2 separate regions of the Homo sapiens genome follow, and region 1 is linked to region 2. Evidence: fine-mapped expression QTL. A gene starts in region 2. The other region holds a variant in brackets. All regions are shown on one strand. Distances are between the middles of the regions.

Region 1 (8,340 bases), 99 kb after region 2:
ATATACAAGTAAATAGATGGACCAATCAATTCAAGTTCAGTCTTTCTGACTTTAAGAAACAGAGACGTTTGTAACCTAGGTTAACGGAAGTACAAAGGGAGGTAGGGTATCTTAGTTTAAGGAAACACATAGCATACAGGGAGATGAACCAAAACGCAAAATAAGAAACAGTAGACCAGCCAGTATTCTGTCAAGGCAGCGGTCTCTAAGAACCTCAACTCCTGGAGTTTCTGAAACTTCACTCTAATTCTCCTCCATTTATAGGAGTCTGCTATTTTCTGGGGGGGGTCTGCTCTGTTTGCCTCTCAGTACATCTCATTTACCCCTTTACTCAGCATATGTTTTTCCTGCATACATCACTGAATCTGCCTACTCATAGTTTCTGCCTTCTCATTGCTGCTTGGCCATGACTTGCTGTGATCACAACATGACCTCCTACCTTCATCTAAACATCACTCCAACTTTAGCTCCTACTGTCTGGTTCTCTCTGTACTTCCCAATTCAAGTCCCCAAGGGCAAGAAATGGATGGACCTGGCTCAGTTTGAAAATGCCACTCCACTGAATAACTGCTCTTGAGCAATTGTCCAACCCAGTCCACCGTGTTTGGTAATGAAGAGTCCCATGACCCAAACCATGGCTGGAACAGTAGTCGTGGCAGGGATTGTGACAGACGTGGAACACAAACACTCATCATGTTGCTCCCAGGGTTATCAAAAATATATGAATTCTTACCCCCAAGGAGGGTGGAAAGGGGCTCACCCAAGGTAGTGGGAAATGCTGGGCTAAAGAAGGCAGCAGAGTCAAAACCCACCGAGGAATGTTAAGGCTACGAATGCCAGGGTGGGACTCCAGAGAATCAACACATGCTTTATGGGGGAATAGCACCATAGCTATGTTTTTTTGTTTTTGTTTTTGTTTTTTTTTTTTTTTTTGAGATGGAGTCTTGCTCCGTTGCCCAGGCTTGGGTGCAGTGGTATGATCTCCGCTCATTCTAATTTTCACCTCCTGGGTTCAAGCAATTCTCCTGCCTCAGCCTCCTGAGTAGCTGGGCTTATAGGCACTCACTACCATGCTGGCTAATTTTTGTATTTTTAGTAGAGACAGAGTTTCACCGGGTTGGCCAGGCTGGTCTCGAACTCCTGACCTCAAGTGATCTGTCTGCCTCGGCCTCCCAAAGTGCTGGGATTACAGGCATGAGCCACCATGCCAGGCCCATAGCAATGCTTTTGGTGGGAAGGAAGAGCAAGATTTGAGAATGTCCTAAGAATATTACTTTCCAACTCTAGGTTACACAGCACAAAGGCCCAGAAGCAAAACAGACAGTTTTTGGGAGCTGATTTCTTTGCTTCTAGGCTAGCCCCCACTGTGGCTGCCATTTTTAGATTTTAAGTAACATTTTCCCTGATGATAAAAATGGTTACTTAAAAATCTGGAAAATAATTAATTAAAAAATAAAAATTAATGGTATTTTCCCTACCTAGCAAGAACCACAGTCACAATTTCATAAAATTTTGTAGTCTTTTTCTCTATGCATTTTTTTTTCCTAAAAGGTTGAGGTTTTATATTGTAATTTTTTTCTTTTTCTTTTCTTTTTTTTTTTTGAGACAGAGTCTCACTCTGTCACCCAGGCTGGAGTGCTGTGGTGCGATCTCGGCTCACTGCAAACTCCACCTCCTGGGTTCACGCCATTCTCCTGCCTTAGCCTCCTGAGTAGCTGGGACTACAGGCGCCCGCCACCACGCCCAGCTGACTTTTTTTTTGTATATTTAGTAGAGACGGGGTTTCACCGTGTTAGCCAAGATGGTCTCGATCTCCTGACCTCGTGATCCACCTGCCTTGGCCTCCCAAAGTGCTGGGATTACAGGCGTGAGCCACCATGCCGGGCTGACTTTTTTCTTTAGTTATTATGCCACTAGTAAAATAATATATTCTCTAAAAATATGGTTGTAAAAATATTCCATTATAGGGTGGTCCCATAATTTATTTCACCATGTCCTATGGGTAAGGTTTAGATTGTTACTGGTTTTTCACTTTTATAAACTAAGTAGTTCAATAGAAAATTCTTAGAAGTGGCCAGGTGCAGTGGCTCATGCCTGTAATCCCACTACTTTGGGAGGCTGAGGCAGGAGGATCGCTTGAGCTCGGGAGGTTGAGGCTGCAATGAGCTGTGATCATGTCACTGCACTTCAGCCCGGCAACAGAGATCCTTCCTGTCTCAAAAAAAAAAAAAAAAAAAAAAAGCAAAAGAAAATTCTTAGAAGCAATAGACCACATTAGAGGGTAATATTTTTTTAAAACACATATTTGGTCATATAGTTTCTCAATCTAAAATTTTTCAAAATTTAACCTTTGCCTTTAGGATCAAGTTTCAATTCCTGTAGTTAGCAAAAATAGGATGCTTCACGGTCTATAGACGTTGGCTCATATTACTCTTCTGCTTAGAACCCTTTTCTCCCCATGTTTCTCCATTACTAACTTGTCTCATCTTCTAAGATTCAGCTTGTTCATTTTCCCCGTGAGGAAGCATTCTATCCCCACCTTCCAGTTTGGATTCCATACCTGTACCAGTTTGCATTCCATACCTGTACCAGTTTGCCAGTTTTGATTGCATTCAGCTGCAAGTCAGATAAATGCTGACCTACGCACCTGCAGACAAACAGAGGCCGCTTCTGGTATCGCTTCAACGACTAAAAGATGCTAGTGCTAGTGTATCAGTGATTCTTTTGGCTTTTACCTCATGGTTATACGATGGCTGCATCAGCTCCAGGCAGTTGCCTTGAGCTCCAGGGACAGAGGTTTTACCACCCTTGCATATGCTTTCATTTTTTTCTTTGTTAAACATTAAAAGCAAAAACTTCTTTGGAGGCTCCCAGCTGATTTTAGCTTCCCTCTCTCCTTGAGTAAAACTGTCTTCTTGCCAGGCCTGGCTTTAAGGGGAGCTGGGGAACACAGCACTTGATTTTCTAGTTGTTATCTTGGAGACGACAAAGGGTTTGAGAAAGTGCTGGGTTAGCTGATAAACAGTGTCTGCAACAATGCATGCTCTCTGGGCTCCTCCCCCATGCTCCCTTGATACTGCTAACTCTTTCTCTCTTTCCAGACTATAAGCCCCTTGAAGTTACAAAGAGTATTTTTCAGTCCTGTTTCCTGAGCGCCTAGCATGTGCCTCAAACGCATTATTTAAGACATATTTTTTAATAAATGAACTACCTTTAGAGAGCATCCACACTGCACCCTCAATGAGCAACTTAGCATGTCAGGGGAAGAAGAGAAGCACCTTCCCCTAAGCACATTTTCCAAAAGTGGCAACAGCATTATAAAGGGAATATACTGACCTGGGAGTTGTGGAGTTGACGATGGAAGGGCGCCAGCAGCAGCAGCCTGGAAGAAAGCTACACAGAGAGGTCAGTGGTTCTCAAAGTTGGCTGCACAGTGGAATCACCTGGGGGAGGTTTTAAATATCCCCATGCTCAGGCCTCACTCCTTAAGCCCAGTCTTTTCA[G/A]TGATGTGCAGGAGCTGGCTCATTCTGGTTGCAATTCTCTTTCCGACTCTGTATTCAGTGACATCCTTCTGGTAGCTTAAAATTGGCCACGGTGTGACCGGGCGCGGTGTGACCGGGCGCGGTGTGGTGGCTCACGCCTGTAATCCCAGCACTCTGGGGGGCTGAGGTGGGCAGATCACGAGGTCAGGAGTTCGAGACCAGCCTGGCCAACATGGTGAAACCCTGTCTCTACTAAAAATAAAAAATCAGCCTGGTGTGGTGGCGGGTGCCTGTAATCCCAGCTATTCTGGAGGCTGAGGCAGGAGAATTTCTTGAAACCAGAAGGCAGAGTTTGCAGTGAGCAGAGATTGCACCATTGCACTCCAGCCTGGTGACAGAGCGAGACTCCAGCTCAAAAAAAAAAAAAAAAAATTGGCGACAATGTGATATTTGTATTATAGCAATTGACAAATAAGACAAATCACAAATCAGCCCCCACTCCTACTTCGTCGCCTGAGAGCCAGGTCAACGGCACACTGCTCTTGGTATTCTTAGACACTCCCCAGATGTTTCCAATGGACAGCCAACTTTGAGAGCTCCAGGTCAAGGTCAGCTCCTCTTTTGGCCTGTAGTGTCCCGCCAAATAGTATCTTGGGTTCTTCCTTTTCCCCAGTCCTGCCTTTGGGTTAGCATCATTGCATGGGGTAACTGAGCTTGCCTCTAGGGAGCCCGAGTGCAACGTAGAAGAGAGAGTAGAACTGTGGCTTCATTTGTAGCTGTTATTGAGTTTCTTTGAATACAACTTGATTTTCTTTTAGAGCTAGCCAAATCTCTTTCAGTATACCTTTAGGGTTGGATCTATGGGAGGCATGCTATTTCACTGAAGGAGGTGGGAGAAACTTTCAATAATGTTGTGCAATTAGGAACCCTAATTACCCACTCTTGAGATTGCAGTTTCTCATTCGGAGGCATAATTTTCTATGGTGTAATTTGCTAGGTCTGACTCCCCTGCCTGGATCTGATTTGAGTAAAGTGGGCACCGCCCCATCCTAGGGTAGTCTCACTATGGCTAACACACATCAAACTGACTTTCCTGCATCACAAAATCACACTATACAATGCCCAGCTTCATTCCTCTCTCATAGGCCAGATTAGTCATCTTTTGCCTGGTGAAGCAGACTGAAGCATTAGCTCAAAGTAAGCTACCGCCACCACCACGTGCTGTGCAAATCTGGCTGGACAAACTTTGACTCAGCAAATTTGCAATGCCCCATGGGACACCTAAAAATCCCAGGGACAGAGAGGACCCTTGAAAAGCCAGAAACTGCTCTTTTTAAAAGTGGTGCTGGGCCCTAGAGAACATTCAAAGTTAGAGGGCAACTTTGGTCTCTGCCACGAGGGGGCAGAAGGAAGCTGGAAGGAGGTGGGAGTACAATTGGGATTTATTTTAGGGAGAGGACAAGGGCAACTGAATGGTCGCAGTTAGGTGTATGCACCGTGGGGCTCCTTGGGAAAGATGGGCTGCCAAGGGCAGCTGATTTCAAATGCTTTAAAACCTGATTTCTATAATAGCTTTGTTGCTCAAACACCATCCTGAATAACTTAACAGGAAATTGTTCTCAAAATGCTTTTCTTATCTGAACACTTTTTTGTGATTAGGAAGAATAGAAAATTATAAAGTTAAGAATTAAGGTGTACTGTGCAGGAAAAAAATTAAAGTAGAAACTTCTAAAGAATGTCTTAGTATCAATAAATGAAATAGATGTAGACATTGACTAGATTATAGAAGTGAGGGAAGTTTATAATACTAGCCAGTGCCTTATAAACAGTATCACACCCCTCTCATCAGCTCCCAGGCAGAGGGTGGAGAACTCACCTCGTAATTCAGGTCTGCTGCAAGATTGGCCCTCAGGGAAAGGGTCCCTTCTCTTCTGTCTTACCTACCATCAAAGGATCAGGAGTTTATGATTGTATTTCTTTATGGTTTCTTGACTATTGTTTTTATTTCTTTTTTTCTAGCTTTTCTGTTCTTCATAATAAAATGAAAATACCACTCAGGTTATTAACTCTTGGTGTTTTTTTTTTTTTTGGCAAATCTTTTTATAGTGTTACTGTCTGCTGAATTTCTTTAAGAGGGTATCTTACGTTGGTTAAATATCGTGAGCTAATTTTCTGTGCAGAGTCAGCTGAATAAAGTATTCATTTCTTTTGCTCCAACCTGGTGGCTAGAGTGGATTGCTGAAATAGACTCTTGGAGAAGGCAATACTACAAAAAAAGGAATATGATCATTTTCTTGCTTTTGTTGGGGTTTGCTTGACAGTATCCCTGGCAGGAAGTGATGTGCCTGAATCTTCTCATGCCTCTGCCTACTGTAGGAAAGCCTTGTTTCTGAGAACACTTCCCCCTCCCCCACCACTCTGTCATAGACAATCATGAAAGACTTAAATTACGTTTGTGAAGTTTCTTTTCATATGGGTGTTTCACCGTCAATATCCTTTTTACCAATCCCTAGGCCCCTCCCTACTCTATCAGTGGCAGGTGTTAAAATCTGTTTACTCTTTCTGAAAACTTTCGAGTGAGCCACACCTGTGTCTTTCAATGGCGCTCACAACGATGAAGTCAACCTAAACAAAACTGTGAATCTGGGAAATTTTGATTTTAACATTTTCAAACTCTGTTTTCTTTTTTCTTTAATGATTTACCTTTCAAACAACTTTCTATTTTCCTAATTATTCCCCTTGTCAAAAATAAAATGTTGTGACAAAATCATTTGCACTCTGGTTTTAAACTTACCCATATCATTGGGTGAGGGAGAACATGATGGTTAAAAGCTCTTTTATATCGGGAGGAAGATGGTCGCATGAGAAGAGAAAATCTAAAGATGTGATTTCTGTAAAAGCAATATTAATTATGACAATTATGCGGCCGGCTCAGCAGTTATACCTAATTACTGTGTCCTATACATTATTGATGATACATTGTTAATGACAGCTAATTTTGCTGTACAGTTGATTTCATTAGAATCGTGTACTGCATATGCATGCTCAACCTTCAGAGTTTATTGCTCAAACCAGCACATTCACAATTTTAAAAACCATAAGAGGGAGACCACTTTCCAGTGTTACATTCTAAGAGGGCACAGATTTCCTGCCCTTGCTACTCAAAATGCGGTGCAGGACCGACAGCAGCAGCAGTCTCACCCGTGAGCTTGTTAGAAATGTAGAAGACAGGCCCCACCCCAGACTCACCGCATCAAAATCAATGATGTGATTCACAACAAAATTTGAGAAGCCCTCTGTCAATAACTGACCTTAAATAATTTCCTAAGGGAGTTGCCAGAGGAAGGGAGAGTACACAGAAGTCAGTCACTGCTGTAGGACTCACACAACAGAAGTGAGCCTGCGGCTTATTTCAAACAGGACTTCTCAGCTTGGTGCCTACAGCGTCCCATTCTGTAGGTGTAAGGTGGGCTCAGTAATCAGCTTCTTTAACAGGTTCCCTCAATGGCTGGGATGCCTGCAAGTTTGAGATCCACGGTCTGTGCCTACTTCTTGACAAAGAAGAAAGAAGGATGGGATGGCACTGCAGCTGGAGGGTGGAAAGGACGTTCAAAGCAACACATGAGGCTACAGGGTGCAGAAAATGTGGTTAGTTCCTGTGCACTCTGGGAATGTCCACATTTACAATTGAATTCAAATGATCAATTAAAAAAATTACTCAGGTCAAGAATGTATGTTTAGATTTTTAAAGTAATCTGGCCTTCAGTGACCCTGAGTCTTCAATGAAAACCATGTATTACAGAGAAACACCCACAACGTGCACCCCTCACTCCTATGCAAGAAGCTATGCTGTAATTCACCACCTAAATCACCTCTGCCACTGGGTGTCAGTCTTTAGCTAACATTTTCTGGACTATATTCTTATATTGTTTGTAATATCCTTGCTTAGGGAGGACCAAGATAATTTGTGGAAGATGTGTCTTTGGGAAAATCCTGCGAAGCTGTCTTCATTTTGAGCAGGACTTAGTAACACCAGGATTTTTTTTTTCCTTCAAAGTCAAGGCTATGTATCTGGTACTTATGTATATAATGTGATAACTATTTTTATGTATAAATGAAAACTATAATTAATATCAAAATATCAATTTAAACAGGAAGAAAGTTTGGTTGGAGAATGTATTTTACAGATTCTTTTATATGATTCTATCTAATTGGAGTACATTATTAAGTAATTTGCTGAAAAAAGTCAAAAAGTATCGTTGCTAAATTTAAAGGCAAAATGGCTCAAAAAATCTCTTCCTTTCTCTCATTTTTGATGCATTGCTCTCCAGGGGCAATCAATGCCTTCCCAGTGGCCCCATTCAATGGAATTTTATGTAGAAAGGATTTCATTCTTACATTCCCACCCCAAATTTCAGAACAAATTCACTCATTCATTTTTGAACCCTTGTGACGATGAGGCACGGTTGGTCACCTGTGTTTCTTAAAGTTCTGAAGGATAAATACTTAATATTTGAAGGTATCTGGGTCCGTATTTGCTGAATACAGCATAAATCTGAAGTTATAGAAAGAACAGCTCAACTACTGGTGAGCCCAGAATCTGATTCATAGTTTTTAAAATGATTAACCCCACACCCTTCCCTGCCCTAGCTGGCCAGGAGCAAACCATCCTTTAGGGAGGTATAATTTAAGGGAACATGCTTCATATTAAGGAATATGCCATAGATTCATCTAAATGCCCTCGGTGAGATATAATGTGTTTAAATACTGTTTTAAATGCAGTCTGATTTATACGTTTGCATGATTTGTAAAACTCTGAAATTTTGCTAATACCCTCTAATAAACAGTAAAGATCATT
Region 2 (8,340 bases):
TATATAATTAAAATTGTGAGAAAAGTTTTGAAGGAAAGACATACAGGGCTTTGAGGATGTGTAACGGGAACTTAATCTAGTTGGGGGCTTTCTGTGGAAGTGAAGTTTTGCTGAGGTCAAGGGGTCAGTAGGTGTTCATCAGGTCAGAGGAGCAGGACTGGGTGGGTGAGGTCGAAGAATCCTGGGTTGACGTTTACTGTGTATTCACAGTCACTGTTAATTTACATAAGATACTCTTGGTTTTCTGGATCATGGCTATTGGTTCTAACTCAGGCTATGCTATTATTAAGGACTCTCAATGGTCCACACCTATCACGTGATCTCATCAATGTTCAATGTGAAAAATAAGGCCCTGCATCTTTGCCAAATGGTTGACAGTGGGAGCATTTGCCACATCCAGAGGAAACTCAATCACTCCATATCTACTGGAGGGTACTTCATCCATGGACTCAACTGGACAGCCACAAGAGAACCATGTCAAAGGCCCAATGGTCCTACAGAGATGCCCAGAACGGTGGCAGGGAGATCATGTCACTGCAGCTTGGGAGATAACTAGGAGTAGTTTGGGTGTTTACAAGGACCAAAGAAGGGAAGAAAGGAGACATTTGGATACATCCATAAACTCTTACGAGTGCTTACTGTGATGAATAGCACTATCTCTGCTGTCAGGCTGCCTAGGTTGAAGCCTGGCTTTGCCACTCCGTGACTGCATGGTCTTGGGCAAGTTACTTAACTTCGTTGTGCCTCAGTCCCTTGTGTAAATGAAGGAGATGCTGGTACATGCCTCATAAGGTAGATGTGAAACACCCACTGGGACATAGTAAACTCCAGCAGATGTTTGTTAGCTGCTATTATTATTATTACTATTACTTTCTACCAATTTTTATTTTTAAAATTATTTATTTATATATTTTTGTTGGTAACAGTCATTGGTTTTATAACCATAACCCCAAATTAGAAAAATAAAACCTTTTTGTTTATGGTGATAGTTTCATGGGTATGTACTTATCTTCAAATTCGTCAAGTTGTATATATTAAATATCACTTTTTTGTATGTCAGTCAAGCCTCAATTAAAAAAAAACTTTCTGTAGGTGCAATTTACATTTTTGCCAAGTGCTCAGTGCTCAGGCGCAATCCCTACATTGTCCAGCAGGGGGAACTATCCAACTGCCTACTGTTCTCTATGAGCCATCATTTTATGAATATGGCTAGGATGAATGATTGCATTGTCTCAAATAACTTAGTCACTTACAGTTGGTATTCACCTATAGAATTTGCCCTTTAGAAACATGGACATTCCCCTCTTTCAATGTTCAAAAGTGGAAAACCTATATGAAAAATCATCATCATCATCATCAACCCTTACTATATGCAGGAACTATCTTGAGCACTTTAGATGAATTTGCTCTTTTAACAATCATTAAAACACTGAGGTTAGCACTGTCTGTCTTACAGATGAGGAAATGGAGGCACAAAAAACTGAACTAACCTGCCCAGTGTCACACAGCGAATATGAGAAAGCGTGTAAACCTGAACCATCCGGTTCCAGAGTCTGTACCACATGTTGGGTATATTATTGTTGGAAACCCACCAGGGTCAATGTGGTCTCTTCCAGAAATTGTGAAGAGCTAATCTCTTTGTGTTCACCTCGGCATTAATGAGCTCTTTTCCTCAAGCCCATCGGAAATGGTTTCATTGAATAACGAAAATAAATTATATATATCAAGTCCAAAATTATCCAGAGATATTAAGATGCCTGCAAAACTCTCATTTTGTCTGAAGCCACTTTGCTTCTGGTCAGTATTTGACTTATAAGAATTTTTTTTTCTCACAAATATATTATACATAGCTAATTAAACAAATATCTTCATTACTTTTGAAAACCCTGAGAACATAAATATCACCATTTTCTTCACACAGCTTCCACGATACAAAATTAACTTTTGGCAGAACACCCTCTTGTGTTCTTTGAAAGTGAAAATATTTTCCTGTAATAAAAATATATGACGTGGTTTATGTAAAACTTGAATTATGTAAAATGAAGGCTAGGGAAATTATTTCATGTATTTTCAGATACTTTCTCCATGCTTTTATTCGTCCTCAAGAATTGCCAGAAAATGGCATAAGTCAAAAGAGTATTCTGTTTCTATTGAGAATATCAAATTGGAATACAATTTAAAATATTTTTAAGTAGTTCCCACTTTTATATTAAATTAACAGAAAAAATAGGGGATTCAGAAGAAATCTTTGGAGGTACAGGGTTAAGACATGACCCCCATACGATGTTTCAGTGATTTTCCCAAGGCCACCGAGGTGCCTGACACTGAGAACTCCTTTGTCCTCAGCGGCACACCTGGCTGCCACCCCACCCTTCCTGTCACATCTTAGGAGTCAGAACTGCGACGGGAGCTAGCCCAGGACACCGAAGGGGGGATCCTAAATGCAGGTTGCATGCTGACGTATGATTTTTATTTGGAAAAACCTCAAAATAGTAAATGAAGAGTAGAGAGAGTGCAGTTTAAATAGGTAGAGATTCGTGATAGGAAGTGGACTGCAGCAGAGGCGACATGAAATTATCTGGGGAAGCCAGATGAAGCCTTTCCGAAAGGAAGCGAGCATTTGTTAAATTACATGTTCATTCATCAAATTCACTGAGCTCCCCTTGAGATCCAAACACGGTGCCGGACACTAAGGATACACAGATAAATTCAGCATCGCCTCCGCTTTCCAAAATCTGGCAACCCAGCAGGAAAGAACAGCATGCAAAGAGATAAGAGTACCCGGGGAGCCACGGTCCAAGGTGCAAAGGCGGAGCCTAGGAGGAAGGGATCACCTGTGTCAGCAGGGGTCAGGGACGGGCTTCTGGGTTTGGGTGCACGCGTCCAAAGGAGTGCAGCCTTTATCCACAGGTGCAATTAGAACACCCATCTCACACTGCTGAAAACTCAGATATGGCACTGCTGACCACCGCCCCACGATGCGACATCAGGGGTCAGATATTAGGCTGGCGCTGTGCAGATAAACAAGTGTATATGTTGGTGCGCCAGGAAGACAAAACACGCGCCTGGAGAGGCCAGGAGAGCGGGACTGGAGGGTTGTGGGACGCGCGGGACCCTCGGGCCGCCTTCCGCCGCCGCCCGGTGTCACCAGAACCCAGCCTGTTTACCAGCGGCCCCGCCCGCCCCGGCCCGGCAGGGCAGGTCGGGGCGGGCGCGCTCTGAGTCACCGGAATCTAGGTGGGGCCGCCCGGAGCGGCGTCCTCGGGAGCCGCCTCCCCGCGGCCTCTTCGCTTTTGTGGCGGCGCCCGCGCTCGCAGGCCACTCTCTGCTGTCGCCCGTCCCGCGCGCTCCTCCGACCCGCTCCGCTCCGCTCCGCTCGGCCCCGCGCCGCCCGTCAACATGATCCGCTGCGGCCTGGCCTGCGAGCGCTGCCGCTGGATCCTGCCCCTGCTCCTACTCAGCGCCATCGCCTTCGACATCATCGCGCTGGCCGGCCGCGGCTGGTTGCAGTCTAGCGACCACGGCCAGACGTCCTCGCTGTGGTGGAAATGCTCCCAAGAGGGCGGCGGCAGCGGGTCCTACGAGGAGGGCTGTCAGAGCCTCATGGAGTACGGTGAGTGCCCGCCGCCGCCGCCGTCGCCGCCTCCAGGAAGCCCTCGGGGCCGCGGCCTGCAAAAGCCGCCGCGCGTGATGGGCCCTCACAGGGTCGGGGGAGCCAGTGCTTTTCAGAATGCCTGTTTAGGACGAGCTCGGGCTCATGCATCCGACCTGAACCAAATGCAGCAGCAGTAGCTTTGGGTGGCCAACACCAAGCTCAGAAACAGAAAAAAAAAAAAGGCCGTAGTTCAAACTGTATAGTTTTTTTCCTGGGTTTTGTCGGTTACGTACGAAAGATTATTTCAAGCATTGCAAGTTTAGATGAGTAAATATAATGAACAAAGTTTCTTGGAGACCTGAAATTTCTTCCCATTTCTCTTCCTTCTCGTTTCTTCTTATGATTAAAATATAAATATTGAAATAACGTGCCTTCCCTAATATCAGTGGATTCGTTCAACTTGATATAGCTGAAAAAACTTTCTCATTTAAAAAAGCCCTTTCAGGCAGTTTTAGCAGTTAACGTTTTCAATAGATATTTCAGTCTACTTTACCGGTCAGGCTAGTTCTTGTTAGCTCTTGTTCTAGGGCGTGTCCTTTGGTTTAAGCATGGCATTGTTGTTTAGAAAACTTAATTATTTTAATCCGATTTGAAATCTAAAAAGCAAACACATTCCCTACACTCGCGACGTGAAGCAGAGTTGACAAATTTAATGTACCTAGCAGGTGAAGTACTGTATGCCATTTTCCCAGCATGGAGGAAGCTCCCTGCTTGCCTTGCTGAAAGTCAGGACTGGAGCATAGTTCTTGTCTGAGAAGGCATTTTCTTTCACAGTGGGAAGCCCCCTCTCCTTTCCTGGGGGTGGATGGGAATCACAGCTGGGGTCTACTGTGATTAGCAATGTGTGTGGGGGTGGAGATGGGGTCTGTGAGAGCCTAATAAAACCTTAAAGCCAAATGGGCTTTACCTACCGGGTTTAATAGTTTTAAACACAGACAGCAAGCTACCCTGCCTGTTTTCATTTCTTACTATTACCATTGACTTGATTTTTTTCTTTGAAGTGGCCCAGGGCTTCCAACCCAATCCTGTTTATTTGTGTTTCCGGGGGACTATATCAGCAACTTGGTGCCCTTTCTTTTGTGTAATCCTTTGGACGTCACTTCCCCACAAAAGGAAGCATGGTCCCCATTAGCCAGGTAATAAAATGTAAACACTGCAGAAAATTCCAGCTTTCTTTGCAGTTTGTGTGTTTTCTTCTCTGAAAACCCATACACTGTGCCAGCTCAGGTTTGTATCATCTCCAGTGTTTTAGGTTTTTAAAGCGAATTAATTGTTTTTTGAAATAATGTACCTCTATCTTCTAGTTAAAATGCATCTGAACTCAGTCTCTTCTAGGGGACCTAACAGATCTGCGTGTGTGTTTTTAAACATACTTTGATAATTATACCCTACTCCAAAGACTAATGCAGACCCAAAGTATATGCAGTAATCCTCCACATATAAAGTAAGACTAGCGTGCCTTTGACTGGTGGCGGGGATATTGGCAGAACTATGATCAGTGCTACTGACGGGACATGATTTGACCTGCAGGGCTCTGGCTGTGACCACAGCCCTCTTGTGAAACATGCACAATGCCATTTTTATTTTTCTTGACTTGCAGGATGAGCTCACCTTTTTAGGGTGTGGTGTTCCACCTTAGACTGATACAGTGCTTTGTATATGGAAGGCAATAAGCAGGTTTTTTTTCTTAGTTTGGTTGAATTTTTAATTAGAAGTCTAAATGTTAATTTTTTTCATTGTAAAGAAAACACTAACCAGTGTATAGTTTATAATTCAGTTTGACATAGAAATTGGTCCTTGGAAAAGCTCGATTTTCTAAGTGGATCTCGAAAAATCTGTTTATGATGCAGCATGACTGATTTTCGTAAATGGTAATAGCTTTAACAACTCAGTTTAGTTATTCCTGCTACCTTTGCAAAGTTAATTAAGTGCCAGTAATGCATTACACACGGCTCTTGCTCAAGATCTGGAATCAAATCATGAATCTGGGATCCGCTGTCATGAAGTGGCTGTGGGAAGAAGACAGCAGATATGGAGCTACCTCTGGCCGTTGTAGCCAAAGATGAGTTTAAGTGCTTATTATACGTCTGTCTCATCGCCTGCATGCACATTGTCTAGTTTTGCCTCACAATTGTAGAAGCTGTGTATAACGACACTGTAAGGCGATTATCTAGGCATCTATGAACTCTGGATTTTCAGATAGCCTTAGTAAGGCCTTACTGAAAACCATATATTTACATGAGCTTGTACTTTATCTAAAATGAAGTAAGCAGTTTACACACACTCCCACGTATGCACAAACACACAGTATCTTGTGCAACAAGGAATAAGGTTGATGGCTCTGATTAAAATGAGATCTCCGTATAGAGAATTGAGTGTGTACATCCACTTTGAAAAACTTCTTGATATGTACTAGGCAATAAATATTTTGATTTACCGTTGTAACTATTAAGAAAATCTTGTTATTACAAAGTGTTTCAACACCTCTCTTATTAGTTGATAATCATAACAATATGTTCATTTTGGTAGTAAAGACACAGGTTATTCCTGGCAAGTATTGACAATAATCCGAATGAATATGGATGTTTTTATAAAGATAAATAATTCCTTAGAACTATATAAAAAGCAGAATATTATATTTTTCACTGTTACTGACAGTTTAAGAATTTCAGATGACCAAATCACCTCATTTTTCCTTGTGAAGGAGCCAAATTATTCGCTGAATATTTTCTTTGACCAGCTAAATTAACACCCAGCTAAAAACATTCTTATTTGAATTTTTTAAAAATCATGGTTTATATTTGTCAAAACAGGAAAAGAAAATCTATAGATTAATGATTGAAATCATTCAAATTTCACCTATAAATAAAATGTGAAATTTAAATGCATGTTCACTCATACTAGTTTTGCACCGCTGGCACCATCTTTTCTAGTTTTTAAGAAAGAATACATCAGGAGGATATTTTCAGCCGCAGCTGTGTAGATTTCAAATCACAGGCAAGCTCCAGCTTGTTCAAGGGGAGAATAATGGTGATAAGTTTGTGCACCAGAGTGAAACAGGGAGTCAGTGAGGATTGACGAGCATTTGCCTTGAATCCAAACTGGGAAGTACAAAGCCTCCGGTTTTTTGTTGTTTTTTAACCAAAGACACCCTTTGCATACTGTAAATGCATCAATATTTTGTTTGTTTTTAACATGAAATCGCTGTTGGCCAAGTCAAAGAATCAGTATTACATGAAATAGTTTTAGGTCAGTTAGCCCTGTGGCTCTCCAATGTACAAGAAATAAGAAAAGTAAGTACAAGTTAATAGTTCACATTAGTCTAAATTCCTCTTAAAGCAGGGATCCCCAACCCTGAGGCCACAGACTGTTACTCCCACTGATTCTACATTATGGTGAGTTGTGTAATTATTTCATTATATATTATACAGTGTAATAATACTAGAAATAAAGTGTGTAATAAAGGTAATGCACTTGAATCATCCCAAAACCAAGGAAAATTTTCTTCCTTGAAACTGGTCCCTGGTGCCAAAAATGTTGGGGACCACTGATTGAAAGGACTTCATTTTGAGATTATGCCCTTGTGGTTTTTTCAGTGGGGAGTGGGGTAGGGAAAGGTATTAAACTGTTCCTGGCCGGGTGTGGTGGCTCACGCCTATAATCCTAGCACTTAGGGAGGCCGAGGCGGGCAGATCACTTGAGGTCAGGAGTTTGAAACCAGCCTGGCCAACATGGTAAAACCCCGTCTCTACTAAAAATACAAAAAAATTAGCCCGGCATGGTGACAGGCACCTGTAATCTCAGCTACTCAGGAGGCTGAGGTAGGAGAATTGCTTGAACCCGGGAGGCGGAGGTTGCAGTGAGCCAAGATTGGGCCACTACACTCCAGCCTGGGTGACAGAGCGAGACTCAGTCTCCAAAAAAATACAAAACTGTACCTAATTTATGAAATTAGGCATTAGCAGACAGATTACTCTTTTTTTTTTGAGACGGAGTCTCGGTCTGTCGCGCAGGCTGGAGTGCAGTGGCACAATCTCTGCTCACTGCAAGCTCCGCCTCCCGGGTTCACACCATTCTCCTGCCTGAGCCTCCCGAGTAGCTCGGACTACAGGCGCCCGCCACCACGCCCGGCTAATTTTTTGTATTTTTAGTAGAGACGGGGTTTCACCATGTTAACCAGGATGGTCTGGATCTCCTGACCTCGTGATCCGCCCACCTCGGCCTCCCAAAGTGCTGAGATTACAGGCGTGAGCCACCGCGCCTGGCCGCAGACAGATTACTCTTTGCACGAGCATGTATGCATTCAAGTTCTTACACAGCAAAAAATAAAAAGTTGGCCACTCTATTGATTTAATAATTTTTAAAAGTACGTATGATTTATAACATCTAGAACGTTTAAGACCCAGTAATCTAGTCCAGGCCATTCATTCCACATGTGCCTCACTCAGCAGTAGCCACCCCAGAGAGCCTCGGTTCCTTTCTCAGTGTCCCCTAACTCGTGTTTGTCCTGTAAAGGGACGCAGACTACTGGGATGTTATAATTAGAAGGGAATTAAAGTACACCAGATTCAAGCTTTCACCAAAGCCTGCACCCATCCATAGCACCCCTGACTAAGCTTCGTCCCTTATTCAACAACTTAGTTCTGTTGCCTGGATGATAGTTTGTTTCCAAGTCCTTCTCTTAA

Evidence for each region. PIP is the estimated chance that this variant, and not a neighbour inherited with it, causes the effect.
Region 1: its variant is fine-mapped to the expression of PERP in subcutaneous fat (TwinsUK, PIP 0.90).

What each region holds. Positions count from the first base shown.
Region 1 is chr6:138,003,657-138,011,996 of GRCh38, reverse strand. No RefSeq gene overlaps it. Among named protein-coding and RNA genes, the nearest start is that of SIMALR, 62 kb to the right of the region's middle. The variant G/A (reference allele first, on the strand shown) is at 3,504.
Region 2 is chr6:138,102,400-138,110,739 of GRCh38, reverse strand. It overlaps PERP (p53 apoptosis effector related to PMP22), which reads left to right and starts at 3,321. Exons shown (of 3, transcript NM_022121.5): 1 at 3,321-3,613. The coding sequence starts at 3,400. RefSeq lists a silencer at 3,143-3,192.